Linked DNA regions of Homo sapiens. The protein of the gene in region 1 purifies or fractionates together with the protein of each later gene. This does not show direct contact. Each region holds a gene or a part of one and is shown on either strand. Other genes may lie near its edges.

Region 1 (4,608 bases):
TTATTCACAAGCTCTGTCATTAAGAAGGAGTAATGACTTAAGTTTAAAGGATGACTCCCTCAAGTAAACACTGGCCCACAATGTCACCTGTCGGAGGCAGGTTAGAGTTGAGAGCGGCACCCACAGAGAAGGTGGCTCAGGGCCTGTCCCTCGTGAGGGCTAGCCTTTCCCTTGCTTTGAGGCAAGGTGGCCTCTAAACCTCCAACTCTCGCTCCCATCCGGTGACCTGTGACCTCACCCCCAGTCCTCCTGTCTTCATCCATAAAATGGGGATGACTGCGGTGCTCACATCCCAGAGCTGTGACGAGAGTGAAAGTGTGCACCATGCCGCCACCCTCGGGGCCAGACACAGGGCCAGAGAGGACAGACACCTCGTCCCCTGCCAGGTCATTTGCAAAGCCTGCAACACACCACGCTCAGGCCCTCAGCTTGACTTAGCTTAACACTGTGATTTTTCAAAGAACAAGGTGGTTCCTAGAAGGATGTTGAATGGACCAAGCCGAACCAGCACTTCAGGACACAGCCCAGCTGTTCCCGGGCTCGGCTAGGTCCTGCCCTTGGTTCCGCCCCCACCTTTCCCACTCAGTCTCCTCCCAACTCCCCAGCCCGATTCCTGCCCACACCCACCCCTAACTCCCGGTTCCTTCAGGTCCAGAAGCCACTTCTTCCAGAACGCACCCCCTGCCAACCTACCCACCTGCTCCCGGGCACCGGGGGTTCCCCACTCCAGGACTGCACCCCCAGCGGTGGGGTTCTCCTGCCTTGCGTGAAGCAGCCTTTGGGGGAGTCGGGCAACTTTCCTTTCCACGAGTGTCTATTTCATTGGGGTCATACTCTCAATGATATCCCCCCAAGAGTGGCCCTAATGTTAGGAAATCTGTACGAACTAAACTGAGTATAATTGGGTTATTAAGTGTCCGAGGTGGCTACTTGTGCAGAACAATTCCTAAGGACGGGAACGAAGAGAACAGAGAATGCCAGGCCGGCTCCATACCTGCGGGAATGATTCCAATCCGGAGGCTACTGGGGACCAGCACAGCCCGGGGGTGGTTCTGGTCGACCCCGGCGCTCCTCTGCGTCCTCCCAATCAGACCGTGCAGCACCTCGCTGAACATACCATCTCCGCCGACACAGACGATGCTGCAGGAGGAACACAGCCGGTCAGGGCTCCTGCAGGTGCGGCCCTCTGAGCGCAGCAGGCCTGAGGCTTCCAGCTTCAGGAGGGGCAGCCTGCACACCTGGCCCTTGGCAGGCATCTAGAAGTGCGGCTCCTGAAATGTCCCTAAGTGATAAGGTCGTGCCTCTGTGCCAGTTGGCCTAGACCACGTGTACAAATAATGAGATTGATGGCAAATACTGGCTTTCCTTCTGTGAGTCTGGAATTTGGGTGGCTAGGCAGAGAATGCCTGCATGCCTGTACCCCCTCAAAAACACTACACTCTGGGTCTCAGGACTCAAGTTTGCGGGGCGGGAAGAGTACACCTGTGCTGCTGCATTTGTGGGAGCAGAGAGGGTGCACTCCAGGTGACCCGCACTGCGGGAGAGGCACAGCAGTCTGCGCGGGGACGTTTCTCCTTTGCTAAGCTGGCTGTGCAGCCTTGCTCTGTCCCGTCAGAAATCTCAGCCGAGAGCACGACTCTAGCTCAGGCAGCAAATCACCAGCCGTGTGGGTGGTCTTGAGGACCCAAGGCAAGAGCAGAGGGGACGGAATAAATGCGGACAAAATGGGGCATGAGACAATCTAAGGAGAGGAGATGGAGAAAGGGGACAGTGGCTGAAGGGAGAAAGGACGGGTTGGTTTCAGGGTGTGCTGTCCTATGCCGGGGGTAACCCACAGGGAACCAACACTGAGGTGGCAGAATGAGAGGTGCAGGCATGGAGACAGACATGTCACTGCAGCCCAGAGGGAAGGCAGAGGACAGGGCTCAGGTTTCCTGGACATCTCTATAGCCTACGGCAGCCCAAGAGCTCTCATCACCCGGGAAGAGAGGGTTGCAGGGGGAAGGTCCGCCGGTAGAGGAGCGGTGTGAGTCGACTAGGGGGTGCAGCCTGAGGGGCCTCCCTCAAGCATGACAGCATCAAGGTGCCTGCCCATTCCCCAGTGGGTCTGTCTGTGCAGGCGCGACCAGTCTCCAGGGCTGGGATCTCTGCCCACCACCCACCACTCAGGCCACCTGCTTTGGGCCCGGCTCCCATGGGAAGGCTCTTTGCCCTTCCCCGTAGCCTACACCTTGCACCGGGGCAGCCTTCCCAGCGGGGCTGTGGTTTCGAGGACAGGGCATCCTTGAATGGGCAGTGTAGCATCTGTGTGTTAGACAGACAGATCACTCAGACAGACAGCTCAGCCGCAGGAAGAGCAGCCCTCACTGGCCAGGCCTCCCAGCCTCCTGCACGGCATGTCCCTGGGTTTGGGGAGAAGGCGTGCCCTCAAGAGGCGAGGCTGATCCCTTGGCTAGGGTGGGTGCAATAAGGTGCCAGCCCCATCCCTGCTGAAAAGTGAAGACGACTGTCTTCCTGCCAAGCTGCTGTCGGGTGGAGGTGGTGGGAAGAAGTACATGGAGGAGCTGCCATCGGGTGGAGTTGGGGAGATGTGCATGGAGGAGCCCCCTGCTTCCTGGAGCCCATGAACAGAACACTCCCGCATTAGGAGGGGAGCAAAGGGGTCTCCCTGTCAGCACCTGGGGGCAGGGGCTCCTTTTATTTCCCTTTCTAACCTTAGCACCAGCAGAGTGCTGGGACCTGGAGGACCCTCAATAATGTTTGTGGAATGAATAATGATTTCAATAAATATCCGCTGCAATTTATAACACATTGCTCACCGACTCCAGATGGAACAGAGAGAAGAAAACAAAAAGCCAACCAATGACAAGGCAATTAACTACAGGGGAATAGCTAAACTCAAGATGAAGAGTGAAATTTTAAGCATAAAGAACAGCACAGAAGAGCTGGACAGACTTGAGTACATGAATTTGAAAACTTCTACTGGGAAGAATTAATGCCATAAGCAAAATTAAAAGACAATTTCAAAATTAGCAAAAATATTTGCAAAAATATGAATATAAATATGAATTGCCTATTATTTGTTGGATAAGAGAACAAATGACTGAAATTATGGCCAACAAAAGAAAATGGGCCAAAGACATAAAAATCAATTCCAAGAAGCCAGCTAGCCAATAAACATATTTCTTAAAATATTAGAGACTTTCACATGTCAAATTAGCAGAGAAATTTTATACTGATAATACCAAACATGTTGACAAAGACAGTAAATAATATACTATAAGAAAGAATGTAAACTGGCCGGGCGCGGTGGCTCATGCCTGTAATCCCAGCACTTTGGGAGGCTGAGGCGGGTCGCGTGGATCACCTGAGGTCAGGAGTTCGAGACCAGCCTGGCCAACATGGCGAAATCCTGTCTCTACTAAAAACACAAAAATTAGCTGGGCGTGGTGTTGGGCACCTATAATCCCAGCTACTCGGGAGGTTGAGGCAGGAGAATCATTTGGACTTGGGAGGCCGAAGCTGCCGAGGTCACGCCATTGCACTCCAGCCTGGGCAACAAGAGCGAAACTCTGCCTCAAAAACGAAAAAAAAAAAAAAGAATGTAAGTTAATAGAATCTCTTTCGAAAGCAATATGGCTGTACACGGCAGAGATTTTAAAATGTTAATCTCCTATGACTAATTTCATTTCTAGGAATTTACCTTAAAAATGTAGATGTATGCAGAGAGATTTATGTACAACAATGCTATCCTAAGAGCAAAAATTGGAAAGAGCCTGAACATCTACAAGTGAGAGGCTAAATAAATATGGCATGCCCACATAATGGACCATGATATGGGCATTAAAAATAGTAGTTCTGGGAAATCTCTAGGAATTTTGGGGAAAAGAAGAATCCCAAACTGTAAAAACGACAGCATCTAAACATTCTTGATAATGTGCTTGGTTGATTTGCTTCTCTGTCTACACAGCACCGCATAAGCACATCTTCTGAAAGACCGAAAGGGAACAGAACCAGCAAACAACCATTCTCGCCCAGCCCAGCCAGAGAGGAGTGTGTGACTGCACTTTTCTGCCTTTTCTTTCTTGCCTTCCTGTAAGAAGCATGTTTACTTTTACAATTGGTCGTGGGTGGAGGCGGGGGGCGGATTTAGGAAAAGGAGCTCTCAAAACTGAGAGGTGGGTAGAACTTTTTCATTAACAATGGACTTGATGGCGATGAAAGACGGCTTACTCACCCGTCGTATTTGTCTATGTTAATCTCATACAGAGTCTCCTTGGCCTGATTAGCATGTTCAGTAACTGTGGGGAAAAATTACATCACACAGTTTATATTCACATCTGTGAGTCCTCACGTAAAAGGCAAATCATCCATTCTTTTAAAATGAGTTCCTGTAACACCTTCAGGCGGATTTCCTAGATAAAATTCCCTCTTCAATTCTACATCGCTCTTATGGGACGGGATCAAGCTGACCTCAGGGAACGTGAACATGAACCTCTCTCGGGCCACAGTCTGCGCGATGACATGCAGCGTTCCTGGTATTTAATTGCCGGCAAATAATAATTTCTTTGAAAGAGATTACGTCTCTTTTATAATTTTTCCTTATTA
Region 2 (3,561 bases), on another chromosome or scaffold:
AAAGGACAAATGCAAAACACTGAAAGATCAGGGCAGTAGTAAAGTAACTCATCCATGTTCTTGTTAGGCCTGGAATCCTGCTGCTGAAGATCAGTGCTTTGACAGATGCCATAGACTTGGTCAGAAGCAAGAAGTTATCATCACAAAAGTGAGTTTTTAAACAAACTATTTTAAGACTAGGTTGATACGATTTTTACAATTAAGCAAGTAATGCATGAATATATTATTATGATTGAGTGTAATTATGCAGAGCAAAATATAAGTCACCTTTTTCCTCCTTCATCAATAATTTAATATATGCTGTTTAAGGGGCCTTTCTCTGCACCTACATTTATAGTTATGTGTACATCTCCTTAAAAACATTCTTTTAAAGATAAATGGAATTATACTTTATTCTACAACATATTTGTTTCCCTTAAAACTATACATTGGAGACTACCTCATAAGTACATTTAGATGAACACTTTTTTTAAATAGTGGTAAAATACAAAATTTACCATTTTGAAGTATACAGTTTAGATGCATTAAGTACATTCATGTTGTTGTGCAACAGCCATCACAATCATCCATCTCCAGAACTTTTTCATCATCTTAAACTGAAACTGTGTATCCATTAAATAATAACTTCCCATTCCTCTCCCCCCAGCCCCTGGCAACTACCATTCTACTTTCTTTCTCTGAATTTGACTACTCTACAAAACCATATAGATATATCGTAATATATTTAACCCATTAAGTTTTTTGCTAATAAAAACAGTGCCATAATGAGCATTATTATATATAAATCTTTTCACATAGATGCAAGTAATTCTTTGGGATAAGTTAAGAAAACTAGAATTCTGGATTTAGAATTTTTATCAACTATCGAGTTGGTTTCAAAATAGGATTTATATGAAAATTGTTAATTTATGCTTCTGTGGCCAAAAAAGTGCTGTTCTAATTTGCATTTACCTAAAACCTTGAGTATATTTCACATATCTTGTTTATTAACATTTTTTCTGTGAATTATTTATATCTTCTGTCCAGTTCTCATAGTTATGGTACAAATAGTTTTATAGTATAAAGGACTCCCTGATACAGTCTGACTTGAAATCTTTTGTTTATGTATGTTGAAAATGGTTTATCCCATACTCTTCCTTGTCTTTAAACTGCATTTTTTTGGTCATGAAAAAGCTTTAAAATTTTTATGATTTAAAACGTCAGCCTTTTTTATACGTTCTAGGTTTTAAGGTCTTACCTAGGACAGAAGGCTTTATTTTCACATTTTTTCAACTATTCTGTATTTACTTCTGGTTCTTTTGGAAGATTTTATTTTTTGTTTTATGATTTGTGACATGAGTCTAAGCTTATTATTTTATCAGATGAAGAACGATTTGTTCTGTCACATCATTTTTTTTCTTTGAAAATTCCAACTTTTTCCCTACTAGTATGAAATGTCACTTTCATCATAAACTAATTTATATATATTACTTGGGTCTTTTTCTAGACTATTCTGTTCCATTGATCTCTTTTCCTTTTCTTAGGGCAGTATTACTCTTATAACAACTATGGTTTCCTAAAGTAAGTTTTGATACCTGATAGGGTAAAATGTTCTGATGACCCTTTTTGAAAATTGTATTGGTGGTTATTATTATTGCTCTTGAATTGAACTTTAGATTTTAGTTATAAAATCCCATTTAAGATATCTTGAGATTTATTGAATTTATTATTACTTTCGAGAACTATCTTTCTTTATAAGTAACGAATGTTTCCATACAGGAACATAGTATCCTTTCTCCATTTATGTAGATCTTATATGTATTTCAGTAAAATTTTATTATATAGCTTTAGTTATTGCAGTAATTGGGTCTTCTTAAACAATGTTAAATAGTAGCAGATAGTGACCATTCTTGACTTGTTTCTGTTTTGTTGTAGAATACTTTTATTGTTTCACATTAAATATGTAAGGTTGAGACATTCATTCCTAGTTGGGGTATTTTAAAATCAAGTTTTTATCAGGAATGAGATGATCACGTTTTATTTTTCTCTTTGTTAGTGTTGTGAATTATACTAAAGATTCATTCTTGAATTTCTGGGAATAGTTTTTTGTTTTTTTTTTTTTTTTTTTTGAGACGTCGCTCTGTCACCCAGGCTGGAGTGCAGTGGCGCAATGTCGGCTTACTGCAAGCTCCGCCTCCCGGGTTCACACCATTCTCCTGCCTCAGCCTCCCGAGTAGCTGGGACTACAGGCGCCCACCACCATGCCCGGCTAACTTTTTCTATTTTTTAGTAGAGATGGCATTTCACCGTGTTAGCCAGGATGGTCTCGATCTCCTGACCTCATGATCTGCCCGCCTCGGCCTCCCAAAGTGCTGGGATTACAGGTGTGAGCCACCGTGCCCGGCCAGAATGGCCTTTTTAATACAATGCTGAAGTCATTTTGCCAGAGTTGCCTATATAGTTTGCTTTTTTTTTCTTTATTGCTTTGCTTATCTTGTGATCTGTAACTTCTATTCGTACAGCCATATTCTTTATATAAGAAAACCATATTGGGTAAGGAAAGCAAAGTTCAGTTCTATTAAATAGTTATTATAGTTTGGTGCAAAAGTAATTGCGGTTTTTGCCATTAGGCAAATCTTTCATTTAGTTTTTTTAATAAAGATTTTAAATACTATGCCTTAAAAACTACTTAACTTTTTTTTTTCTTTTTAAAGTTCATTGTAAAGGACTCTGTTGAAGAAAATATGCTGAAAATACAAAACAAAAAGAGAGAACTTGCAGCAGGAGCCTTTGGAACTAAAAAACCAAATGCTGACGAAATGAAACAAGCCAAAATTAATGAAATCAGAACATTAATTGACTTATAATTTGTGGGATTTTAGTAAGGTCAGTTTGATTGGATACTTAAGTTTTAGAAATGAGAAAAATACAGAGTTTTAGAAATGAGATCTAGAGAACACGTCTTCTAAAAGGGGCATATTTTATATTAGTGAAGAGGTATTACTGACACAATTTCTTCTATATATGAACCTATTTTTAATGAAACTTCAAATAGCAATAAGTTCCGTTATATACTGTGGCCTGAAATAATTTGAGAAAAAAGGTTACTTTGTTATTCAGCTTTTCATAATATCTATGCTGAGTATTTTCACGTATCTTCCAAGTACTCAGCTTTTTCGTATTTCAAATAAGGTCAGACCTTTTATACTTTTGACCAAATAGTTATTTTCTATGTTGGACACTTAGTTATTTACCAAAGCCTCCGATTTGTGATGCAGTGTTTGTAGTCCTTGTAAACAATATATACAGACTATACAAGAATTAATTTTATTGGGCTTTCAAAAACCATATTTGCATTCCAGAACCAAATCTTAAATGAGACCAAAGTCCAGGTTAGCACAGGTTTTTATTTTTCCTACAGCTACATTGAGATATAGTTCACATAAATGACTTGGAGTTTTATGTTCATGAAAAAATTAGGGATTATGTTAAGAGTACTATTTTTTCCATTTTAGTTAAGTAGTACTACACTCATTGTTTAAATGTAACTTGCTGTGTCTGAGGTATAAATATAGTCTGTGG
Region 3 (4,608 bases), on another chromosome or scaffold:
CTGCCTCAGCCTCCCGAATAGCTGGGACTATAGGTGCCCGCCACCACGCCCGGCTAATTTTTTGTTGTTGTTGTATTTTTAGGAGCGACGGGGTTTCACCATGTTAGCCAGGATGGTCTCGATCTCCTGACCTGGTGATCTGCCTGCCTCAGCCTCCCAAAGTGGTGGGATTACAGACGTGAGCCACCAGGCCTGGCCTTCTTTTTTTTTTAAACAATAGAGACAGGGTCTCACTCTGTTGCTGGTCTTGAACTCCTGATCTCAAGTGATCTTCAAGCCTTGGCCTCCCAAACTGCTGGGATTATAGGTGTGAGCCACCACTCCTGGCCAAAGTTGGTGGCTTCTACAGAGTCTTTGAAAGATCCCAGCGGGTATTACTAAAAATTTTTAAGCTCACAGACCACTTTTTGAATGGCCATGGATCCGGAGCCCAGAAAAATAGATATGCATGCAAAAGTTGACATGCTAGCAGGGGGTGGGGGCACATATCTGCAATCCCAGCTACTCAGGAGGCTGAGGCAGAAGGATTGCTTGAACCCAGGGGTTCAAGTCCAGCCTGGGCAACATAGTGAGACCCCATCTTTAAAAAAAAAAAAAATCCTTTCACATGCTATTTTAATATCCAAGGGCTCTCTGAAGCCATCCCTTGGACACAACCCCTGGTCTGAGAAACCAATGAGCCCCTGCAGAATTCTGGAGTAAAAGATCTGACAAAAGGGGATGATGACTCACACCTGAGAGTCACATCTGATTCACACCTGGCAGCTCAACCAATCTGGCACCTGGGCATTTTTGGACACCAATACTATGACACCTGTCACTCAGCCACTACCAAATGTAGTGTTATTGATGTTTTATCAAATGGTTGTGCTTCCTTTCCATCAAAGCTGGGCATGTTGAATGTTATTTTGTAGTTTGCAAGAACCAAAGTTTTCACCGAGCACATGAGGACAAGCTATGTGGAAACAGTGAAAGAATCAAGGCCCAGAACTCAGTGTCTCGGGTGCTTGTCCTATGACCCTGGAGTCCCTGAGTCAAGTCCCTTCCCTCTAGAAGCTTCAGCTGCTTTGCAGAAAAATGAGCTGGCACTAGGTGACCTCTCCAAGCTCCCCTCATGGGCCTGAGCTGTGAAATATCGAATGTCCATGTTTTTATTCATCTATGCATGCTCTGGGCTAACAGCGCAGGGCCCTGCCTCACCTAAACCTCAAGAAGAACCTATTCTATGAAAATAGTTTTCTATTTTATAAGGAAAAATTCCCAGAAAAATTACATTTGATATAGAATTAAAAAAAAAAAGTTTTCAGGGCAACAAATGTTCTAAGAAGTAACGTATACCGTCTTCTGGTCTCAGTTTGCCTTTCCAGAAGAGCATTCAGGGAGGGGTTTCCAGAGCCTTCCCCATGTTAAGAAAAGGGTGCACAGCACAGAAGAGAGCTCCTGAACTCTTGCGGCTGGTCTATCTGTCATTTGCTTCTCTTCCATAAGTTAGTGGGAGAAAACGACGACCAACAAAGAAGGCCATTCCCACTACTGTGTGATCTAAGCCCAAGGGGCCATCCTTTTCCAGATCACCAGACTAATGAATGCTCTGCTCTTCTACCAATTTTAGGCAAGGAAAATTGTGTATCCGTTTGGGGGTTGCAGCAGCAAATCACTCAGACGGCATTCAGCGACTAGCTCAGCAGCGGAACACAGCAAACAGGTACTCCATCTGTATTCCATCTATATTCGTAGCTCAAAAGCAGGATCCTCCCCAGAAGCAAACCCAGTGTGTGATGTGACCTTGGGTGCCACAGCTGGGGTCACACCCCCAACTCTCACCCTGGCTGCTGCTCTCCCAGATCTCAGTGCCCAGGCTGCTGCCAGGCACGGTCACGTCACCTTGCTCCAGACATAAGTTGTTCTGCTTTTTTGCAAATCGAGGAGGAATACGGGAGGAAAGGCCTCGACCTTTGACAGGCACCTGAGGGGAAGAAAGGATGCTGTAGTCTAGCCAAAGGCACCAAGACTGACAAATTCTCCCCAGGATAAGTATCCCAGGTACCAAAAATCACACCACCTGAAAATGCTCCAGAGATGTGTGGAACGCTCGTCTCCCAAAACCTCAAGCAGAACTGCGATGCCAAGCAAAGCACCCCCCAAGAAAGACCTGAAAGGCCAACGGACTGTAATCTGTGTGCAGGTCCAGCCCTGACTCCATTTTAGTATAGCGTTCACGATCCACTTGACTTGAGGGAGACAAATCTCATTCCACTCAGGAATGAGGAGTGGGGAGGAAGGAGAAGCTGGGAGGTGACGGAGGTCTGCATCTTGCCTTGGACAAGTTTCCACTGTTATCACCCTAGAGAAGTCACCCTCTTCAAGACTCGGTTTCTTCCACTGCATAACAGTGATGCCACCACCTATTCCTACATTGATAGAAGGGCCTTGGTAATAGCAGGAACGGGGAGACAATGTGTGCTTGCTAAATACTCCTTTCTTCCTCTCTGCCACCTTGAGCTTGACCGAGAACTCCCTTACCCTCTGGCTCTGGGTTTCCTGGGCATCTGCCAGCCTGCCCTCCAGCCCCATGCCCCCCCACCCTCCGCCCCTCACCTGCACGGCCTGCTCCTTCTTTCTTCTCTCTTCCTCCAGCAGGCGGCGCTGCTTCTTGGTCAGGACTTCGATGAAGCCTTCGCCCACCATAGAACCCACCTCACTCTCCTCCCCGGGGCTGGACCCGCAATTTTCAATGATGGCACCTGAACCAAGATTTCACGAGAAGGAACAGTCTTTCCACTCACCAGGAGACAAGAACAACCCAATTCAACAGGCGCCTGAGATCTAGCATCAGGCTCGACAGAAACCTGGACAGGACTTCCGCACTTTTCTCAGGCCGCCTCTGATCTAACACATTGTTACCCCAAACCAAAGAGGCCCAAGGGCACAACTGAGAGAACACGCAAAGAGCTTAAACCCCAGCTCTGCTCCTACAGCTGTGTGTGACCTCGGACACACCACCGAACGTCTCTGGGCCCCAGGCTTCCTCTCTTTAAAGCCCGGAAGCTGCAGGGTGTCACGGGGATTCAACGGGCTGTGAGCAACACTCGGTGGGAATCCTACCTACTCTGCTCACCTCTACAGCCCCAGAACCCAGCCCAGGGCCTGGCCGAGCTGTTCCGAAAGCTAAGGTACTCAGTGCAAGGGCAAACTCGGGAGGCCCGAGGACTGCATGGCCCCTGGTTCTGCCTGAGTTCTTTCCCCTGAAGATATGAGGATGACTTACTTCCATAGTTCAGGTCAAACTGTTTCATGGCCTCTCCCTGTTCACCTGCCCTCGGAGCAGCCAACTTGGCCTCCTTCTCTGCCTTTTTACTGGAGGCTTCGGGAAGGTCAGCACTGGCATGGGCTGCCCGCTCCAGGGCATAGGGGGAGTGGCCACTCCCACTGCTGCAGCCACTAAGACCTCCAGGCAAGGCCTCGTCTGGGGATCTGTAAGGGAAAGAGGATCTTGTTAACCAGAGCTGGGGAAGGAGGGAAAACACCGCACGTGCACACAGCCTGCACACAAGCCCGGCACCCTGATCTAGGCCCACTTCCTCTAGCTGACTCCTCGGGTGGGGAGGAGCGGCAGGCTGGCCACAGTGCATCCATGTCCGTGTGCAAACATACGTGTAAGGCTGCCCCCACCGGCTCTGCCTGCTCCTGGGGAAAGTGGCTCCCCAGGGCTCTCCCACATGCTATGTTCAGAGTGTAGGGGGGAGAGAGACAAGGGGAATATGCTCAGAATGGAGACGCCAGCATTTCTGCTCCTCTCCAGGACTGCCCTGCCGGAGGGCCCTTGGGGCAGAAAACTGAGGTGAAGCCAAGGGTCAGCCTCTGGCGCCTGGAAAGCTGGATTAGATGCCACCTGAAAGAGTCGGTGTTCCCTGTGGCTCCTTCTCTGGGAGTTTCTCTGCCTTGAATTCTAAGGAGAGTGGAGGTGTGAAGCCATCTTCCTCAGTATGCTGAGGACAGGGAAGGCCTCAGCAGCCCCTGCACCTCCCTGTCCGAGGCACAAGCCAAGTGCAGTCAGTCAACCCAGACTGTGCAGGGGACCCTCTCCTGGTCCCTGAGCAGAGGTCATCACCCGAATGCCTCTGGCTGTGGAAGAGGTGCTCGCCAGACCATGTGCAGCCTGCTCCCCTCTGCGTTTGCTGGGCTCCTGCCATGCTGAGGTGGCAACCCCACCGTGGGGCCACGTCTCCTCACAGTGGAGAAGCAGAACCATCTAGGAAGAGCCACTTCCATGCAGCCACGAGGCCAGCGATGCCCCCTAGGACGCCGCCTGGCAGCAACTCCGGAGCAGAGGACTCTGGTGGACTGACCGGCACCTGGCACTGTGCACAGGCAACGTTCCTCGCTGCAGCGGCCCCTCGGCGGGGCTCCAGGGACACATGACTGGACTCTCAGGTCAGGTGCTGGACAGTGGCCTCAAGAGCACCACTGGGGTGGGGGTGGGGGTGGGAGCTCTAGCCACAATAACACCACCACGAGAAGCAGACAGGCAATGTGGGGGCAGGCAATGGAGACGCGCACAGACGGCCTGGGGGCAGGCCCCCAGCCCCGACACACGGCGGCATCGGC
Region 4 (3,540 bases), on another chromosome or scaffold:
GTGCTCGCTTGAAAGACACAAGGGGAGGCTGAAGAAACAACTACCTATCCACTGCCTACCCATCTGTTCACAACATGGGACAAAGAGCCGTGCACCTCTCCTGAGTTCTAAGCAGCAGTTACCAAACCCAGGGACAAAAACGTTCACTCCAGCTCTGCCCACTGTGAGAAACACATCAGACAATCGCAACTGAGGAACGTCCTACAAAACATGAGACCAATCCTCAAAACTGCCAGAGCCCTCAAAACAAGGGAGGTCTGAGGAACTGTCACCCCAGAGGAGCCTAAGAAGATGGGCGATCAAACGCCATGTGGACTCCCAAGACCGGAAAGGACACTGGGGAGACTCAGCACATCTGAATCACGTGTGGACCCAACACCGCGGGTCGGCGGGGGCTCCTCAGGTGGGAGGACTGCCCCATGGGGGCCTCCACGGGAGCGAGGCAGGGTGGCAGGGAGCTCTCTGCACCGCGCCTGCAACTTTTCTACATCTAACACTATAATCAGCGTGGGGCTGTGGCTCACGCCTGTAATCCCAACACTTGGGGAGGCCGAGGCAGGCGGATCACCTGAGGTCAGGAGTTCAAGACCAGCCTGGCCAATGTGGTAAAACCCCACCTCTACTAAAAATACAAAAATTAGCTGGGCATGGTGACGCGTGCCTGTAATCCCAGACACTTGGGAGGCTGAGACAGGAGAATGCTTGAACTGGGGAGGTGGAGGTGGCAGTAAGCTGAGATTGCACCACTGCACTCCAGCCTCGTGACAGAGAGAGACTCCATCTCAAAAAAAAAAAAAAAAGAAAAGCCGAGTGTGTTGGTGCATGCCTGCAGTCGCAGCTACTCGGGAGGCTGAGGCAGGAGAATCACTGGAACCCGGGAGGCAGAGGTTGCAGTGAGCCAAGATGTCGCCATCGCACTCCAGCCTGGGTGACAGAGCAAGACTTTGTCTCAAAAAAAAAAAGAAAAAAAAATTCCTACTCTAAAATTAAAGCTTTGTTTTAAAAAAATGTTCAAGAAAAAAGTGTAAGACTTGGGAAAAGATTAAACAAAACTGACAAAACATTGGTAATTGCTAATGGCAGGAAGAGGCACAGGAGACTGTGGCAGCCTTCTTTCTACCTCGGGGGAACACACTTGACGAGTTCAGGATAAAAAGTATGGAACACGTAAGTTTCAGTTGAGCTGGGTAGAATTCACATCGGTCAGAGTGTTCTCTGTACTCTGTGTGCCTTGGAAATACTTCACGAGAGGGGTGGGGACCGTGGGTGCTGTGTGGACACTGTGTGACGCCGTAGCCCCCACGCCTGGCCAGGGCCTCACCGCCTGCAACTTGTCCAGGTTGTCCTGCAGCACCTTCTCGGTGTGTCTGTAGGCCTTGGCCACCAGCAGTCTTGCTTCCTGTGAGTGGAGGGAACTGTGTCAGGGGCAAGGCTGGCCGCCTGGCTCCAGCACCAAAGCACAGAAAAGAAATGGCAGACTGGGAACACGGCCTTTCCCCTCCCAGGAGGAACAGGACTCCTCAGCCGACAGGTGGTCTCCTGCCCCTGTGACCAGTGCCAGGAAAGCAGGGCTCCGCATGCCAGCCCACCCACCCACACCCACCCACAGCTGCCTCACAGGCACACATCGGCCCTTCCTGGCCCAGTCTGAAGGACATGTGGGCCCTGGGTCTATTGCTCGGTGTATTTATTTGATATTCTTCCCAGATTCACATCTATAATTTCATTAGGAGCATCTATGTCCTCATTTGAGAAGAAAATACTCCACAGGTGGGAACTACAGCAGAGCCCAGAAGGAAGAAACCCAGGTGGGGCCTGCAGCTGAGCTCCGCTGGGGCGGCCGTGGGCGACCCTTGTGTGGTAGACCCAGGGACTCCCTCCCCGGGGAGCACAGAGGGCAGCGGTGTGGCCAGAGCCGACTCACATGGTCCATCATCTGCTGCAGGCCTTGGCTGAAGGGGCGCCGCCCGATGCCCATGAGGCCCTCCTGCGCCTCAGGGAAGGAGATGGGCCCGATGCCAGGTGCCATCCCAAACTGCTTCACCATGGAGTAGGCGATGCGGGTGACCTTCCTCAGGTCGTCCTGTGCCCCTGGAGGGCGGGGTCGAGACAGAGGCATCCTCAGCACTGCAGGCGCAGAGCAGTGCTGGGCCCCAGGTGTCCCGGTCAGAGCACTGAGGCAGCACCACCTCCATCCCCTTCCTCCCGAGGACCCACCGTGAAGCTGGACAGTGAGGACGTTGGCACCTCACCACTGTTCCTTAAGAGAGTCTTAAAACTTTCCGAAATGCTCTTTTATTTGGAAATCTAGAACCCGGGGGCATACTGGAGCTCACTGCATGGCAGTTCTCAAGCACAAGCCCAGGCCTATGCGAGGCAAACCCATGGACCTGGAGCCCAGGGGCCCCCGGGACCCTCCTTCAGCTCTCTGGATATCCCAGTGCAGTAATGGCTTCAGAACAATGAAGCCGCTTCAATTTTATTCCGTTTCCTGTAGCCATTACCAACAATTAACCAATTAAATGTGTCTAGAGTTGGCATATAGGTTAAGTTTTTGTCCAATTAAATTATCTAAGAAGTCTTGCTTAGCTCCAACTCTCTTATGACCACAACTTATCTTTTACAAAATACTTAATAAATTCAAAGCTACGTCTACACCAGATTCACCCCATGGCATGCACTGGAACAGAAGGAGTCATGCAGGGAAAAGCGCTCTGAAACCTCCAGGGCCCGCGCCGCTGCTCCTCACCAGAAGTGACCTCGTTGAAGGACAGTGCTTCCGAGGCCCGTCCTCCCAGGGCCATGCACATCCGCTCAAACAGCTGCTCCTTGGTGAAGAGGTGCTGGTCTCTGGGGAGCATCTGAGCAAAGCCCAGGGCGGCGTTTGTCCGAGGGGTTATGGAGACCTGGCACAAGGTCAAGATGACCCAGGTCAGTAGGCAGGATGCGTGGGCTTTGAGGAGGAAGGTGTGGGACTAAGAGGTCTCCGTCATTAAAGCGTCTCAAAGCAGGAAGGCAAATGTGCAGCATCCTCTACAACAACAGGGGATCCTAACACTCTAGATGGCCAGCCCAGAGACAGCAGCGTTCCCACCACAGGTGCCTGTTCACACACTGCCGGGAAGTGTCTTCTCATACATGACTAGACAGGCAGGGAGTCAAGAAGACAAGGCCCGTAGAAGACAGCTGAGAGGCGAAGGACAAGTTTCACCCCCGATGGCCGCTGCGCTGACCCCTCACACCAGCGACAGCTACTGAGGGTTCAGAGCAATGAGAACCCCACGATGCTGAGGCAGCAGAGGCTGTCCTCACCTCTGCTGCTCCCCCACAGCCCCACATCAGGTGTGCAAGGAGGTGGCGCGGGGCAACGAGCTAACTCGACAACACGGAACCGCTGAGTGGGAGACGGACGGAGACGGGGCAGGGGCTGGCCCAGCTGCTGCTTCTGAGAATTGTGGCGGCGAGATGGCCACATCCAAGTGCTCTGAGAATCCCGAGGACGCTTAATTTAAAATCTAAAACTAGGCTGGGCGGGGTCGC
Region 5 (4,608 bases), on another chromosome or scaffold:
CTGCCATTCTTCTCTTCCTCGGAGGTTTTTCTCTTTGCTCCTTTCCCTTCAGTCTTTACCATCTGGGATATTGATGTGGCAAGAGAACCTGGAAATAAAGTAAAAGCCAGACAGAAACACAGCTGTAGACTGTTGGAAAAAGTCACTAGTAGACTGGGCTTCATCCTAGCACTCAAAGACAAGGTCATTTGAAGCAAGGACTGGCAGACACAGGCAGACCCAGGAGTTGTGTCTTCATGGTTGGCGGGGAGGGGGAGGGGGGTCCCACAGTGAGAGAACATAAAGTTAAGATCCAGGCCCTGAGTCAAACTGACCCTGCTGAAGGGGTTTGTAAAAGACTTTTCCCAGTGGTAAAAATACATGGTTTTTTTTGGCCTGTAGCATATACATGTTTTTATATCCACAGGCTCTTAGTGTTAAACAAACACTTACAAAATCTGTAAGCAAACTAACATATCCTAATCACGTTCCAAAAAGTAACAAGTACTCGAAAAGGCTCAAAATGAGGTAAATGGCAGCCTTTAAGAACTGTAATACATCCTTTCAAAGGCAAAATAAGGCTGCCACAGCTGTTCCCACTAGCAAAAGGATGAATCTGTACTCAAAGCTAAGGGAATCTGCAGTGTATGTGTTTGAAATGAGAAAAGTCAAGTTTCAAAGAGGTGTGCAACTTAATCTTTCAGTCTCAGCTGTCTTCACCCGTGCGTAACATGGTAAGAATACTGTCATCTCAGAGGGATGTTTGAAAATGGGTCAGGACAAGTAGGAAGAGCATTTGTCACAGTGCCTAACACATCAATCTCCAATAAGGGCAGCTGCTGTCCTAATAAATGACTTGAAATGTTCTCTGCATTTAGGTATAAAAGTATGCAACAGCCAGATGCAGTGGCACATGCCTGCAGTCACAGCTACTTCTGGAGACTGAGGCAGAAGGATCACTTCAGCCCAGGCATTTGAGACCTGCCTGGGCAAAGTAGTAAGACGTTTCTCTTTAAAAAAAAAAAAAAAAAAAAAAAAAAAAGGATGCAAGTACTTATTTACTTACTCAACCTACTCTTTGCCAGACATTTCTTCTTCTTTTTGTTTTTGACACAGGGTCTCATTCTGTCACACAGACTAGAATGCAGTGGCATGATCACAGTTTACTGCAGCCTCCAACTCCTGTGTTCAAGTGATCCTTCCATCTCAGCCTCCTGAGCAGCTGGGACTGAAAGCAGGAACCACTACACCCGGCTAATTTTTTAATTTTTTTGGTAAACACAAGGTGTCTTTTTTTTTTTTTTGAGACGGAGTCTACTCTGTCGCCCAGGCTCGAGTGCAGTGACGCAACGTCAGCTCACTACAACCTCCACCTCCAGGGTTCAAGCAATTCTCCTGTCTCAGCCTACAGGAGTGCACCATCACACCCAGCTAATTTTTGTATTTTTGTATTTTTAGTAGAGACGGAGTTTCACCATGTTGGGTAGGTTGGTCTTGAACCGCCTGTGTCAGACATTTCTTAGTGCTGAGGAAAAAGTAATGAAAATGTTCCTGCCCTCAAGAAGCGTAAATTAGTTGCACAAGGCCCTATTTCTGCAACAGTATAACATAATACACATATGCACCCTGCATAAGGCAACACAGATGTTTCCAACAGTATCTCTCCCAAAGGTCCCCATTAGTGTCCTGTGGCTTACTGTATGGGTTCCAGTTTTCCCCATATGGATGTGAAACTTTCTTCCTTTAAAATTCCAAAACAGATGGCCAGGTGTGGTGGTTCACACCTGTCATCCCAGCACTTTGGGAGGCTGAGATGGGCAGATCATCTAAGGTCAGAAGGTCAAGACAAGCCTGACCAACATGGCGAAACCCGGTCTCTAATTAAAATACAAAAAATTAGCCGGGCATGGTAGCGCCTGTAATCCCAGCTACTCGGGAGGCTGAGGCACGAGACTCACTGGAACCCAGGAGGCGGAGGCTGCAGTGAGCTGAGATCTCGCCACTGCGCTCCAGCCTAGGCAACAGAGCAAGGCTCCATCTCAAAAAAAAAAAAAAGAAAAAGAAAAAGGCCAGGCGCAGCGGCTCATGCCTGTAATCCCAGCACTTTGGGAGGCAGAGGCAGGCGGATCATGAGGTCAAGAGATTGAGACCATCCTGGCCAACATGGTGAAACCCCGTCTCTACTGAAAATACAAAAAATTAGCTGGGTGTGGTGGCAGGTGCCTATAGTCCCAGCTACTCGGGAGGCTTAGACAGGAACTTGAACCCGGGAAGTAGAGGTTGCAGTGAGCTGAGATCGCAACACTGCACTCCAGCCTGCCAACAGAGTGAGACTGTCTTAAAAAAAAAAAAAGAAAAAGAAAAAGAAAAAAAGAAAAATAATAAAATTTCAAAATAAAGACACCTTACAGGTTTGTTATTGACTTCTAAGCAAATTACACTGTAGTCTGAGAATGTAGTCTGTACAAGAAACAGATCATTGAGGCTTATTTTATGGCTTAGTACATAATCAACTTTTGTAAATGGTTCCTGCCCGCTTAAGAATGTGTTATCGGGCCGGGCAAGGTCGCTCACACCTGTCATCCCAGCACTTTGGGAGGCCGAGGCAGGCGGATCACGAAGTCAGGAGATGGAAACCATCCTGGCTAACATGGTGAAACCCCATCTCTACTAAAAATACAAAAAAATTAGGTGGGCGTGGTGGCGGGAGCCTGTAGTCCCAGCTACTTGGGAGGCTGAGGCAGCAGAATGGCATGAACCTGGGAGGCAGAGCTTGCACTGAGCTGAGATCGCGCCACTGCACTCCAGCCTGGGCAACAGAGAGAGAGACAGTCTCAAAAAAGGAAAAAAAAAAAAAGAATGTGTTATCGGCTGGGTGCAGTGGCTCACGCCTGTAATCTCAGCACTTTGGGAGGCTGAGGCGGACAGATCACAAGGTCAGGAGTTCGAGACCAGCCTGGCCAATATGGGAAAACCCTGTCTCTACTAAAAATACAAAAATTAGCCAGGCATGGTGGCACACGCCTGTAGTCCCAACTACTCAGGAGGCTGAGGCAGGAGAATCGCTTAAACCCGGGAGGTGGAGGTAGCAGTGAGCCAAGATTGTGCCACTGCACTCCAGCCTGGGTGAGAGTGTGAGACTCCGTCTCAAGAAAAAAAAAATGTGTTAACTTCTCTAGAAATCTAAAACACTAGACCCAAGATTATATATCCAAAAAATTAAGCTTGTTAATAGTGTTATGTAAATCTTCTAAATTTTTTACTACTTTGCCTTTTGTCCTGTAGATAAATAAGAGACAGCTATGCTGTATCTTCATTTCTTCTATTAAATCCCTTAACAGCCTTCTTTGAACATATTAACTTTCCTTTTTTTTGGAGACAGAGTCTTTCTCTGTCACCCAGGCTGGAGTGCAATGGCGTGATCTCAGCTCACTGCAACCTCTGCCTCCTGGGTTCAAGCGACTCTCCTGCCTCTGCCTCCTGAGTAGCTGGGACGACAGGCACATGCCACCATGCCTGGCTAATTTTTGTATTTTTAGTAGAGACAGGGTTTCGCCATGTTGGCCAGGCTGGTCTTGAACTCCTGACCTCAAGTGATCTACCCGCCTTGGCTTCCCAAAGTGCTGGGATTATAGGCGTGAGCCACCACGCCCAGCCAGAACATATTAACTTTCATTACAACTAAGGGTACTATCTTTATTGGGAAGGTTTCAGGCCACACTGTGAGTGTGAGGATGCTGCAATTTTTTGGTATGGGTCTACAGCCCTGAAGATTGAGAATTCTTATATAAGATGACTGGAGTACTTTTCCTAAAATATAGAAAATATACCTGCATACGAAATGGGATTACCTGCATTCCCCACTGCCCCCACACCATCTATCTCCCAACCTCTCCTAACCCTCACCTTCCCCAACCAGAGGAGCTCTACCTAAGAAGTTCTCATGAGACAGAATCATACCTTTGCCGCAATGGCAACAGGAATCTGCTCTATTCTTCCCTTCTACTTAATTAGGACATGAAAAGGAACATTTTCAGGAGGAGGTAGAGCCAATGCTACTAGCCTCGATACATTTGAGTCAAGCACTCTGTTTAACAAGGCAAATCGGAATAATGAACTCTGAATTTTTAAAAAATGTTAATAACAAAGTTAAGAGTAAATTAGTGAACTCTTAATTCTTAAAGGCAGTTCCAACAATCTGAACCTCAAGAAGTTAATATCACCAGAAAGTGATACAGTATTATCTTTGTGCTTCCAATTAATGTGCCTGTTTATAGTTTTAGTAAACCTTATGCTGTATTATGACTTAATGTCATCCAAAATCCCGTTAAAACCTATACATAAATTTCACATAAGAGTAAAATACTATGTATTATTTCCATCAGCACCTTGGATTTTTCCTACCACTTACCTGAATCGCCACTGCTAGCGGGTGGGAGATCATCAAAAAGCAAAGGTCCCCCTGATCCTGAAACACAGCAGAACACTTAGTGAGCCCACAAAAAATATGTAAGACTTAAGTTTCAGAATCCATCCCACCAGGACACCTATGTAGGTTACTGAAATAAACTCAAAACTTTGCGTCAATCCAGTGGCAACTCATACTGCAATGAATAATATCTTGAACCT
Region 6 (4,608 bases), on another chromosome or scaffold:
GAATATTTTCCATCTGAGGTTGGTTGAATCCATGGATGCAGAACCCATGACATAGAGAGCCGACTGTATAGCATACATAAAATTCAGCAAGCTGTTCACTTAAGACTTGCACAATTTATTGTACCTAAGTTTTTTTTTTTAAAAAAGATACTCATAGAATACTTCTAAAGGAAGAAATGAGTAAATTAAGAATAATTCCTCTATTTAGAAGAAGTAAAAACTAGTAGAAGTACAAAGAGAAGAAAGTAGACCAGGCCTACAGAAGAAAAGGGTGACTTGGAAACCAGCCTGAGATAGACATATCCCTAGGGTTTTACACTGGCAAGAGTCTTTAGGTCCAGAAACAGGAGTAAAAAAACAAACACAGGAGCCAATAGTTCCTATCGTTCTGTTTTGGATTCTGTACTTTTTTTTGCCTTTTTAAAAAAAAGATAATTTTAGATTTACAGCTGAGTTGCAAAAATAGTACAGGGTTCCCATATGCCCTATATCCAGCTTCCCCTTATGTTAACATGTTATACAACCATAGGGAGTCATCAAAGCTAAGAAATTAACATCGGTACAGGTACAGACTTCATTCAGATTTTACAAGTTTTTCCACCAATGTCCTTTTTCTGTTTCAGGTTCCCATACTATTTAGTTGTCATGCCTCCTTAGTTCCCTCGAATCCGATAGTTCCTTGACTTTTTCATCTTTCAAAACCTTGACGCTTTCTTTTTTTATTTTTATTTTTTGAGACGGAGTCTCTCTCTGTCACCAGGCTGGAGTTCAGTGGTGTGATCTCGGCTCACTGCAACCTCTGCCTCCCGGGTTCAAGCGATTCTCCTGCCTCTGCCTCTCAAGTAGCTGGGACTACAGGTGCAGGCCACCACGCCCAGCTAATTTTTCTATTTTTAGTAGAGATGGGTTTTCAACATGTTGGCCAGGCTGGTCTGGATCTGCTGACCTCATGATCCGCCCATCTCAGCCTCCCAAAGTGCTGGGATTATAGGCATGAGCCACCGTGCCCGGCCCTTGAGTAGTGGAATTATAGGCATGCACCACCACGCCGAGCTAATTTTTGTATTTTTATTAGAGACGGGGTTTCGCCATGTTGGCCAGGCTGGTCTTGAACTCCTGACCTCAAGTGATCCTCCCACCTTGGCCTCCCAAAGTGCTGGGATTACAGGCATGAGCCACCGTACCCAGTCCCCCCCAAATTTTTTTTTTAAAGGTTCAGGAGAATAGATCTTTCGTCAGTAACTTCTATGAATATTCAGGTAAGATAAGGAGAAGCCTGAAGATTACAAATTCCTGTCATCACAAAGTAATCTCAGTGGAACAAAGGTCTTTGCTAACAACCGACTGAACATCACTCTGGGATGCTCTGGTACAAGGATCCCCTTCTTATGCTGACCTAATAAGTAAAAACCACATAATGGTATAAGGAGCATCAGAGAAATGAAATAAGAAATGGTCAGCATTAGTGAGGAAACAAAATATGGAAAAGGATTTGGATGTTTAAAAAATAAAACAGTGTCTGGCGGCTCATGCCTGTAATCCTAGCACTTTGGGAGGCTGAGGCAGGAGGATCACTTAAGCCTAGGAGTTTGAGACCAGTCTGGCCAACATGGTGAAACTTGTCTTTACTGAAAATACAAAAATTAGTTGGGTGTGGCCAGGCACGGTGGCTCACGCCTGTAATTCCAGCACTTTGGGAGGCCGAGTGGGGTGGATCACCTGAGGTCAGGAGTTCAACACCAGCCTGGCTAACATGGTGAAACCCGTTTCTACTAAAAATACAAAAAATTAGCCGGGCATGGTGGCACACACCTGTAATCCCAGCTACTTGGGAGGCTGAGGCAGGAGAATTGCTTAAACCTGGGAGGTGGAGGTTGCAGTGAGCCGAGATCACGCCACTGCACTCCAGCCTGGGTGACAGAGCAAGGCTCCATCTCAGGAAAAAAAAAAAAAAAAATTAGCTGGGCATGGTGGCATGCACCTATAGTCCCAGCTATTCAGGAGGCTGAGGTGGGAGGATCACTTGACACCAAGAGTTAAAGGTTGCAGTGAGCTATGATCATGCCACTGTACTCCAGCCCCAGTGACAGAAGAGTGAGACCCTGTCTCTAAGAAAATAAATAAAAATTAAGAAAATAATTTTTCTTAAAAAAGATACACTGACGCTGAAGCTGGGCACGGTGGTTCATGCTTGTAATCCCAGCACTTTGGGAGGCTGAGACGGCGGATCATGAGGTCAAGAGATCAAGACCATCCTGGCCAACATGATGAAACCCTGTCTCTACTAACAATACCAAAATTAGCTAGGCGTCGTGGCATGTGCCTGTAGTCCCAGCTACTCAGGAGGCTGAAGCAGGAGAGTCGCTTGAGCCCAGGAGGCAGAGGCTGCAGTGAGCCAAGATTGCGCCATTACACTCCAGACTGACAACAGTGAGACTCTGTCTCAAAAAGAAAATATATATATATATATATACACACATATATATATATATATATATATATATATATATACACACACATATATATATATATATATATATACACACACATATATATATATATATATATATATACACACACATATATATATATATATATATATATATATATATACACACATATATATATATATATATATATATACTGACCCTGTAGTTTCAAGGGCATTTGGGAACTGCTCACATATAACCCAGCCTAAATAAATCATATTCATAAATCTGTGCGGCCTCATCTCTCAATACTTAGACATAACTTTACATAAAGGACCCAGGACTGGGAGATGGAGAGCACATTTTCATGCTGTGTTCCAGGGCTTGGCCTGGATCATCAGTATTAGTAGCAGCTCTCCCTTCCTCGTGTTGCCAAAAAGGGTCAAAACCGTCTACTGAGGGGGTAGGATGGAGAATCAATACATTATAATCTCCATGTTATTGTTTATTTTATTTGTTTATTTATTTTGGACACAGGGTCTGGTTTCGTCACCAAGGCTGGAGTGCAGTGGTGCAATCTGGGCTCACTGCAACCTCCACCTCCTGGGCTCAAGCCATCCTCTCACCTCAGCCTCCAGAGTAGCTGGAACTACAGGGGCATGCCACCATGCCCTGCTAATTTTTGTATTTTTTGTAGAGAGAGGGTTTCACTATGTTGCCCAGGCTGGTCTTGACCTCCTGGGCTCAAGCAGTCCGCCTGCCTTGACCTCCCGAAGTGCTGGGATTACAGGCGTGAGCCACTGCATCTAGCCTCCATGTCACTATAATGCCTTACACGATTCACCACCTTTTTTTTTTTTTTTTTTAAGACAGAGTCTTGCTGTGTCACCCAGGCTAGAGTGCAGTGGCGCAATCTTGGCTCACTGAAACTTCTGCCACCTGGGTTCAAGCGAGCACGTCTGGTTAATTTTTGTATTTTTAGTAGAGACGGGGTTTCATCATGTTGGCCAGGCTGGTCTCGAACTCCTGACCTCCAGTGATCCACCCGCCTCAGTCTCCCAAAGTGCTGGGATTACAGACGTGAGCCACTGCACCCAGCTGTTCACCACCTTCTTACTTTGTTCAGGGCCTTAGTCCAAAGCCCAAGCCCCAACTCACTTGCTACTCTCCCTCAACACCTGTTGCAGGATCCATTATTACCTGTGGCTTACAGTCAAAGAAGCCTCTCTACTGCTGTAAAGGCAAGAGGAAAACTAATGGAGGTATGTTCTTCTGCCCTAAATTAAAACACTAATTACATTTGCTCACTTAAAAAGCAATTTATAGGCCGGGTGCAGTGGCTCACGCCTGTAATCCCAGCACTTTGGGAGGCCGAGGCAGGCGGATCACAAGGTCAGGAGATCGAGATCATCCTGGCTAACACAGTGAAACCCCGTCTCTACAAAAAATACAAAAAAAGCTCTCCCTCCCCCTCCCCCTCGTCTGCGTCTCCCGCTTTCCACCGTCTCCCTCTGTTGCCGAGGCTGGACTGTACTGCAGCGATCTGGGATCGTTGCAGCCTCCCTGCCTGACTACAGGCGTGCGCCGCCACGCCTGACTGGTTTTTGTATTTTTTGGTGGAGACGGGGTTTCGCCGTGTTGGCCGGGCTGGTCTCCGCTCCTGACCTCGAGTGATCTGCCCGCCTCGGCCTCCCGAGGTGCCGGGATTCCAGACGGAGTCTCGCTCACTCAGTGCTCAATGCTGCCCAGGCTGGAGTGCAGTGGCGTGATCTCGGCTCGCTACAACCTCCACCTCCCAGCTGCCTGCCTTGGCCTCCCAAAGTGCTGAGATTGCAGCCTCTGCCCGGCTGCCACCCCGTCTAGGAATTGAGGAGCGTCTCTGCCTGGCTGCCCATCCCCTGGGATGTGGGGAAGCACCTCTGCCCGGCCGCCCCGTCTGGGATGTGAGGAGCGCCTCTGCTCGGCCGCTACTCCGTCTGGGAGGTGAGGAGCACCGCTGCCCGGCCGCCACCCCGTCTGGGAGGTGAGGAGCGCCTCTGCCCGGCCACGACCCCGTCTGGGAACTGAGGAGCGCCTCCGCCAGGCCGCCCGCATCTGGGAAGTAAGGAGCCCCTCTGCCCTGCCGCCACCCTGTCTGGGAGGTGTACCCAACAGTTCATTGAGAACGGGCCATGATGAC
Region 7 (4,608 bases), on another chromosome or scaffold:
TGCATTGGGTGAATGCCTCAGGCTGCTTCTGCTCTTGGAAGAGGATGAAGGGGAGCTGTTGTGTGCAAAATCAGATGGCCAGAGAGGAAGCAAGAGAGAGAAAAGAAAGGGCCAGGCTCTTTTTAACAACCATGTCTCATGGGAACTAAGAGTGAGGACTCATGCATTCCCTCTGAGACTGGCACCAGGCTGTTCATCAGGGATCTGCCCCCGTAATTCAAACACTTCCTACCAGGCCCCACCTCCAACACTGGGGATCAGATTTCAACCTGAGACTTGGAAGGGCCAAACCATATCCAAACCATAGCACTTCCAGGTATTAGTCCTTTGTTGGATAGGTGGTTTGCAAATGTTTTCTCCCAGTCTCATAGCTTGTCATTTTATTCTCTTAAGAGGGTCTTTCATATAGGAAAAGTTTTTCTTTTGATGACGTCAAATTTATCAGCTTTTGTTTTTATGGATTGTACTTTTGGGGTCAAGTCTAAGAACTCTTTGTATAACCCCGTATTCTGAAGATTTTCTCGTATGTTTTTTTCCCGAAAGTTCGATAGTTTTATATTTTATACTTAAATCCATGATCCATTTTTTTTTTGTTTTCTTGAGACAAGATCTTGCTCTGTTGTTACCCAGGGCTAGAGCATAGTGGCACGATCAAGGCTCACTGCAGCCTCAACCTCCAGGGCTCAAGTGATCCTCCTATGTCAGCCTCCCAGGTAGCTAGGACTATGGGTTGCACCACCACAGCTGGCTAATTTTTTTCTTTGTTTTTTTTTTTTATTTTTTGAGACAGGGTGTCACTCTGTCACCCAGGCTAGAGAGCAGTGGTGCAATCATTACTCACTGCAGCCTCAACGTCCCAGGCTCAAGCGATTCTCCTGCCTCAGCCTCCCAAGTAGCTGGGACTATAGGCGTGCACCACCATATCCAGCTAATTTTTATATTTTTTGTTGAGACAGGGTTTTGCCATGTTGCCCAGTCTTGGCACATTTAATTTTTTAAAAAGTTTTTTGGTTGGGCCTGATGGCTCACGCCTGTAATCCCAGCACTTTGGGAGGCCGAGGTGGGCAGATCACGAGGTCAGGATATCGAGACCATCCTGACTAACACAGTGAAACCCCGTCTGTACTAAAAAACACAAAAAATTAGCCGGGTGTGGTGGCAGGTGCCTGTAGTCCCAGCTGCTTGGGAGGCTGAGGCAGGAGAATGGCATTAACCCGGGAGGAGGAGCTTGCAGTGAGCCAAGATAGCGCCACTGCACTCTAGCCTGGGTGACAGAGTGAGACTCCGTTTCAAAAAAAAAAAAAAAAAAAAATCTGTAAAAATGGAGTCTATGTTGCTCTGGCTGGTCTCGAACTTCTGGGCTCAAAAGATCCTCCCACCTTGACCTCCCAACCTGCAGGAATTACAGGTGTGAGCCACTGCACCCAACTTCGTGATCTATTTTGAGTTAATTTTTGTATAAGGTGTGAGGTTTAGGTCAATGTTCATCTTTCAACTTTTAATACTAGTTGTTCCAGCATCATTTGTTGAAAGGCTGTTTGTGATGTTTTGAGTTGGCTAGCTCCTTGATATCACCTAAATCTTATCAGTAGTCCATTTCCAAGCTTCATTGCAAGATGACTTGCCAATCAACTAATCAAGCTTGTCATTAGACAGAAAAATCTCTTTCCTATTAATGTAGAGTATAAGGGCTGAAAGTTCAGGTTTTGGAACCAGTTCCTGGGTTTTTAAAACTAGCCCTTCTGCTTATGAAGTAACTTCGTAGCTTAAAACAACTGTCTGTTTAGGTCACAATTCTGTGGGATGGTATTTTGGACTGGGCTCAGCTGCACAGTGGTTCTGTGTCTGTGTCAGGTCTCAGATTGACTTAGGGCTGATTGTTGGGGATGAAGGGGCCTCTGCTGGGATGATACATCATGTACATTCCCTGTGGCTTCTCATTCTCCAGCAGGCTGTTCATTGCTGCTTTGCATGATGCTTGCAGGGTCCCCAGAACAGGAAGCATGGTAGCTACAAGTCCTCTTGAGATGTAAACTCAGAATTTATGCACTGTTCCTTCTGCCACATTTGTCAAAGCAAGTTACGGGGCCAGCTCAAATTTAAGAAGTTTGGAAGATTGACTCACCTGTTAATGGAGAAGCTGCAAAAGGATTGTGGCCATTTTTGTAATCTGGCAATGCTGGTAAATTACTCAGTTACTCTGAGCATCAGTTTCCTTATTTATAAAATGGGGATAATAATAATAATGAACTCATAATAATACCTAACTTATGAGGCTTAATTCATGAGAATTCAGTAAGATGATGATGATGATGATGATGATGATGATGATGATGATGATGAAGGTAGAATATGGAAAAGCTCAAACTATTTTTCCTCTGCTCTCACTCCATAACAACAATCAACACAGAAGACTTCTGTGACCAAATGTACGGGGTTGCAGTGGACATCAGTTGGGTATCCTCCAATTCAATTCTGACACTGTCTCCCTGAGGACAGCCCACAGGTTGAGGGCTCAGTCCCTCAAGATCATCCCCATCTTCCTAGTAGTCCTGAGTCCAGGCTTCTGGAACTTCTGACTGACTGGCTTCAAGTTGGGGTTCCCACAGTACCCTCTTTGGGCTTGATTGATTTGCTAGAGTGATGCAGAGAACTCAGGGAAACACTTAGATTTACCAATTTATTACAAAGGAAACAGATGAAGAGATATGTAGGGTGAGGTGTGTGGTAAGAGGCACAGATCTTCCATGCCCTTCCGGGGCACGCCACCCTCCAGGAACCTCCACATGTTCAGCCATCTGGAAGCTCTCCGAACCTTGTCCCCTTGGACCTCTTATGGAGACTTATTGGATAGGCATGATTGAAGCATGGGCAACTGTGTCGAAATGTGATTGAACAAAAAGAATGTGACCTGATACTAATAGACTGAGTGGGGTAACCCAGCAAGGCCTGTCTGTTCAGATTTTGTCTTGGTCTTCCTGTGCAATATTTCTTCCTCCAAGGTATGGGGCAGGACCCTCTCTGGACTGAGGGTCTTACAACCCACAATCAAATTAGAGTCCTGCCTTGAGTAGGTGAAAGGAGTTCAGGAGAATACCAGAGAGATTCTGTTTCCTTACACCAACATTATAACAAAAGACTGTAAAAAGGATTATTAGAGTTATAAGCCAGGGACCATGGATATATATGTCATGTCACAGTAAGTAACACTTTTTTTACAGTACCAGTTAATATTCATTGAGTATTTTGTGCCAATCTCTGTTCATGCATGAACTTGTTTTATCCACCCTACCAACCTTATGAGATAGTTAAGGAGACAGCAAGTAAGTGAAGGGGTTGAAATTTCACTCAGGCAGTCTGGCTCCAGAGCCAACACTTGTCCTTTTTACTCCTGTAGAAGGTGTATGAATACTTAGCACAACTCCTGGTATATAGTAAGTGTTCACTTCAGTATTTTTATTGATACTTATCCTCATTAGACTCATTCACAGAAGGAGGCACTTTCTAATTGTTTCCCTAGGTTTTTGAATTTGGGGATTTGGATTTTTCTGGAACGTGGAGCTCTTTCACTGACCATGATAAGCAGAATAGCAGAGGGAAAAAAAAAGAAAAGAAAGGCAAAATGAGAACGCTTGTGGAGATAAACAGAGAAGGCAATGGAAGGCCAGAGAGAAAAAGAGTAGTCATGTCTGGGTCCCTTCTTGTTGAGGCCTGGAACACAGCCTCATTGGTTACTGGGCATAAGGATTCTGATGCTGAAGAAGTAAAGGGTTCTCCTCTGTCAGAGTGGTAAGAGTATAATCCGTGGCCCTTAAGAAGAACATGGACAACCCCTCCCATCCCCCACCATGCCACATCTGTACACACATACACTTCAGTATGCCCTCATACCTACTAAGAGGGGACAGATTTTCTTTGGAACTTAGAGCCTAAAAGTTCCTTAGAAGATGGGAAACAATTATTTCTCTAGAAGCCTTGAATTTTCCTAACTAATCAAGGCCTTCTCAGTTTTCAATATGGACCCTAACAAGTATAATACATTGTAGAACATTAAAAAAATACCCCCAAGAAAGGTAGGGTCAGCCTTGGAAGGTAAAAGGCGTTGTTCAATAGGAAACCCAACAAGCCCTGAGTCCCCTGAAGCTCTCCTTTGTGCTAGAACCTACTGGATTTGACTGAGTCAACTGCATGAAACCTTGTTGTTAGTGGTGACCTCCTCTTGAACCCTAACAGGCCTTATCTACTGCTGTTACCCTATTGTCTCCAGCCAGAATGACCCTTGACTACCTGGCACTGAACCATGCGACCCACCCTCTTCTCCTGATACAGACTGTGGGTTAGCCTCCTTCATGCTAGCCTGGCTGCTGGATTCTGATTGGCTTCTACCATTTGATCACCTGGACAGACATGCATGCCACTGCCTGTGTTCCTGAGGTACCCTCTCAGGCTGCTCCACCCATGCTCACCACCCTTCCAGGTCAGGATAGGCCCTCCAGCAGACAGGAGAGAAAGCCAGAAAGCCTAGATCTGACAGCTACCAAAAGGATAATACATGATACTTGGCATAGCTCTAAGCTCTGCAAACAGCCACTGATGATCCCTGGTCCA

The links.
Region 2: the proteins of CERK (region 1) and HLTF purify together in Homo sapiens (affinity purification with mass spectrometry; one large-scale study listed by BioGRID and IntAct). This does not show direct contact.
Region 3: the proteins of CERK (region 1) and PRRC2B purify together in Homo sapiens (affinity purification with mass spectrometry; one large-scale study listed by BioGRID and IntAct). This does not show direct contact.
Region 4: the proteins of CERK (region 1) and SPG7 purify together in Homo sapiens (affinity purification with mass spectrometry; one large-scale study listed by BioGRID and IntAct). This does not show direct contact.
Region 5: the proteins of CERK (region 1) and ILKAP purify together in Homo sapiens (affinity purification with mass spectrometry; one large-scale study listed by BioGRID and IntAct). This does not show direct contact.
Region 6: the proteins of CERK (region 1) and TAF13 purify together in Homo sapiens (affinity purification with mass spectrometry; one large-scale study listed by BioGRID and IntAct). This does not show direct contact.
Region 7: the proteins of CERK (region 1) and ALDH18A1 purify together in Homo sapiens (affinity purification with mass spectrometry; one large-scale study listed by BioGRID and IntAct). This does not show direct contact.

What each region holds. Positions count from the first base shown.
Region 1 is NC_000022.11:46,706,849-46,711,456, forward strand, and holds part of CERK (ceramide kinase), read right to left. Parts: intron 4,302-4,608; coding exon 4,238-4,301; intron 1,141-4,237; coding exon 995-1,140; intron 1-994. UniProt on the Homo sapiens protein: Catalyzes specifically the phosphorylation of ceramide to form ceramide 1-phosphate.
Region 2 is NC_000003.12:149,031,505-149,035,065, reverse strand, and holds part of HLTF (helicase-like transcription factor), read left to right. Parts: intron 1-67; coding exon 68-148; intron 149-2,693; coding exon 2,694-2,846; 3' UTR 2,847-3,561. UniProt on the Homo sapiens protein: Has both helicase and E3 ubiquitin ligase activities. Possesses intrinsic ATP-dependent nucleosome-remodeling activity; This activity may be required for transcriptional activation or repression of specific target promoters.
Region 3 is NC_000009.12:131,476,610-131,481,217, reverse strand, and holds part of PRRC2B (protein PRRC2B), read right to left. Parts: intron 3,475-4,608; coding exon 3,269-3,474; intron 2,745-3,268; coding exon 2,599-2,744; intron 1,967-2,598; coding exon 1,825-1,966; intron 1-1,824.
Region 4 is NC_000016.10:89,552,345-89,555,884, reverse strand, and holds part of SPG7 (mitochondrial inner membrane m-AAA protease component paraplegin isoform 1 precursor), read right to left. Parts: intron 2,907-3,540; coding exon 2,750-2,906; intron 2,092-2,749; coding exon 1,925-2,091; intron 1,400-1,924; coding exon 1,322-1,399; intron 8-1,321; coding exon of another isoform or gene 1-7. UniProt on the Homo sapiens protein: Catalytic component of the m-AAA protease, a protease that plays a key role in proteostasis of inner mitochondrial membrane proteins, and which is essential for axonal and neuron development.
Region 5 is NC_000002.12:238,189,885-238,194,492, forward strand, and holds part of ILKAP (integrin-linked kinase-associated serine/threonine phosphatase 2C), read right to left. Parts: intron 4,448-4,608; coding exon 4,391-4,447; intron 89-4,390; coding exon 1-88. UniProt on the Homo sapiens protein: Protein phosphatase that may play a role in regulation of cell cycle progression via dephosphorylation of its substrates whose appropriate phosphorylation states might be crucial for cell proliferation.
Region 6 is NC_000001.11:109,069,504-109,074,111, forward strand, and holds part of TAF13 (transcription initiation factor TFIID subunit 13), read right to left. Parts: intron 1-4,608. UniProt on the Homo sapiens protein: The TFIID basal transcription factor complex plays a major role in the initiation of RNA polymerase II (Pol II)-dependent transcription.
Region 7 is NC_000010.11:95,646,056-95,650,663, reverse strand, and holds part of ALDH18A1 (delta-1-pyrroline-5-carboxylate synthase), read left to right. Parts: intron 1-4,608. UniProt on the Homo sapiens protein: Bifunctional enzyme that converts glutamate to glutamate 5-semialdehyde, an intermediate in the biosynthesis of proline, ornithine and arginine.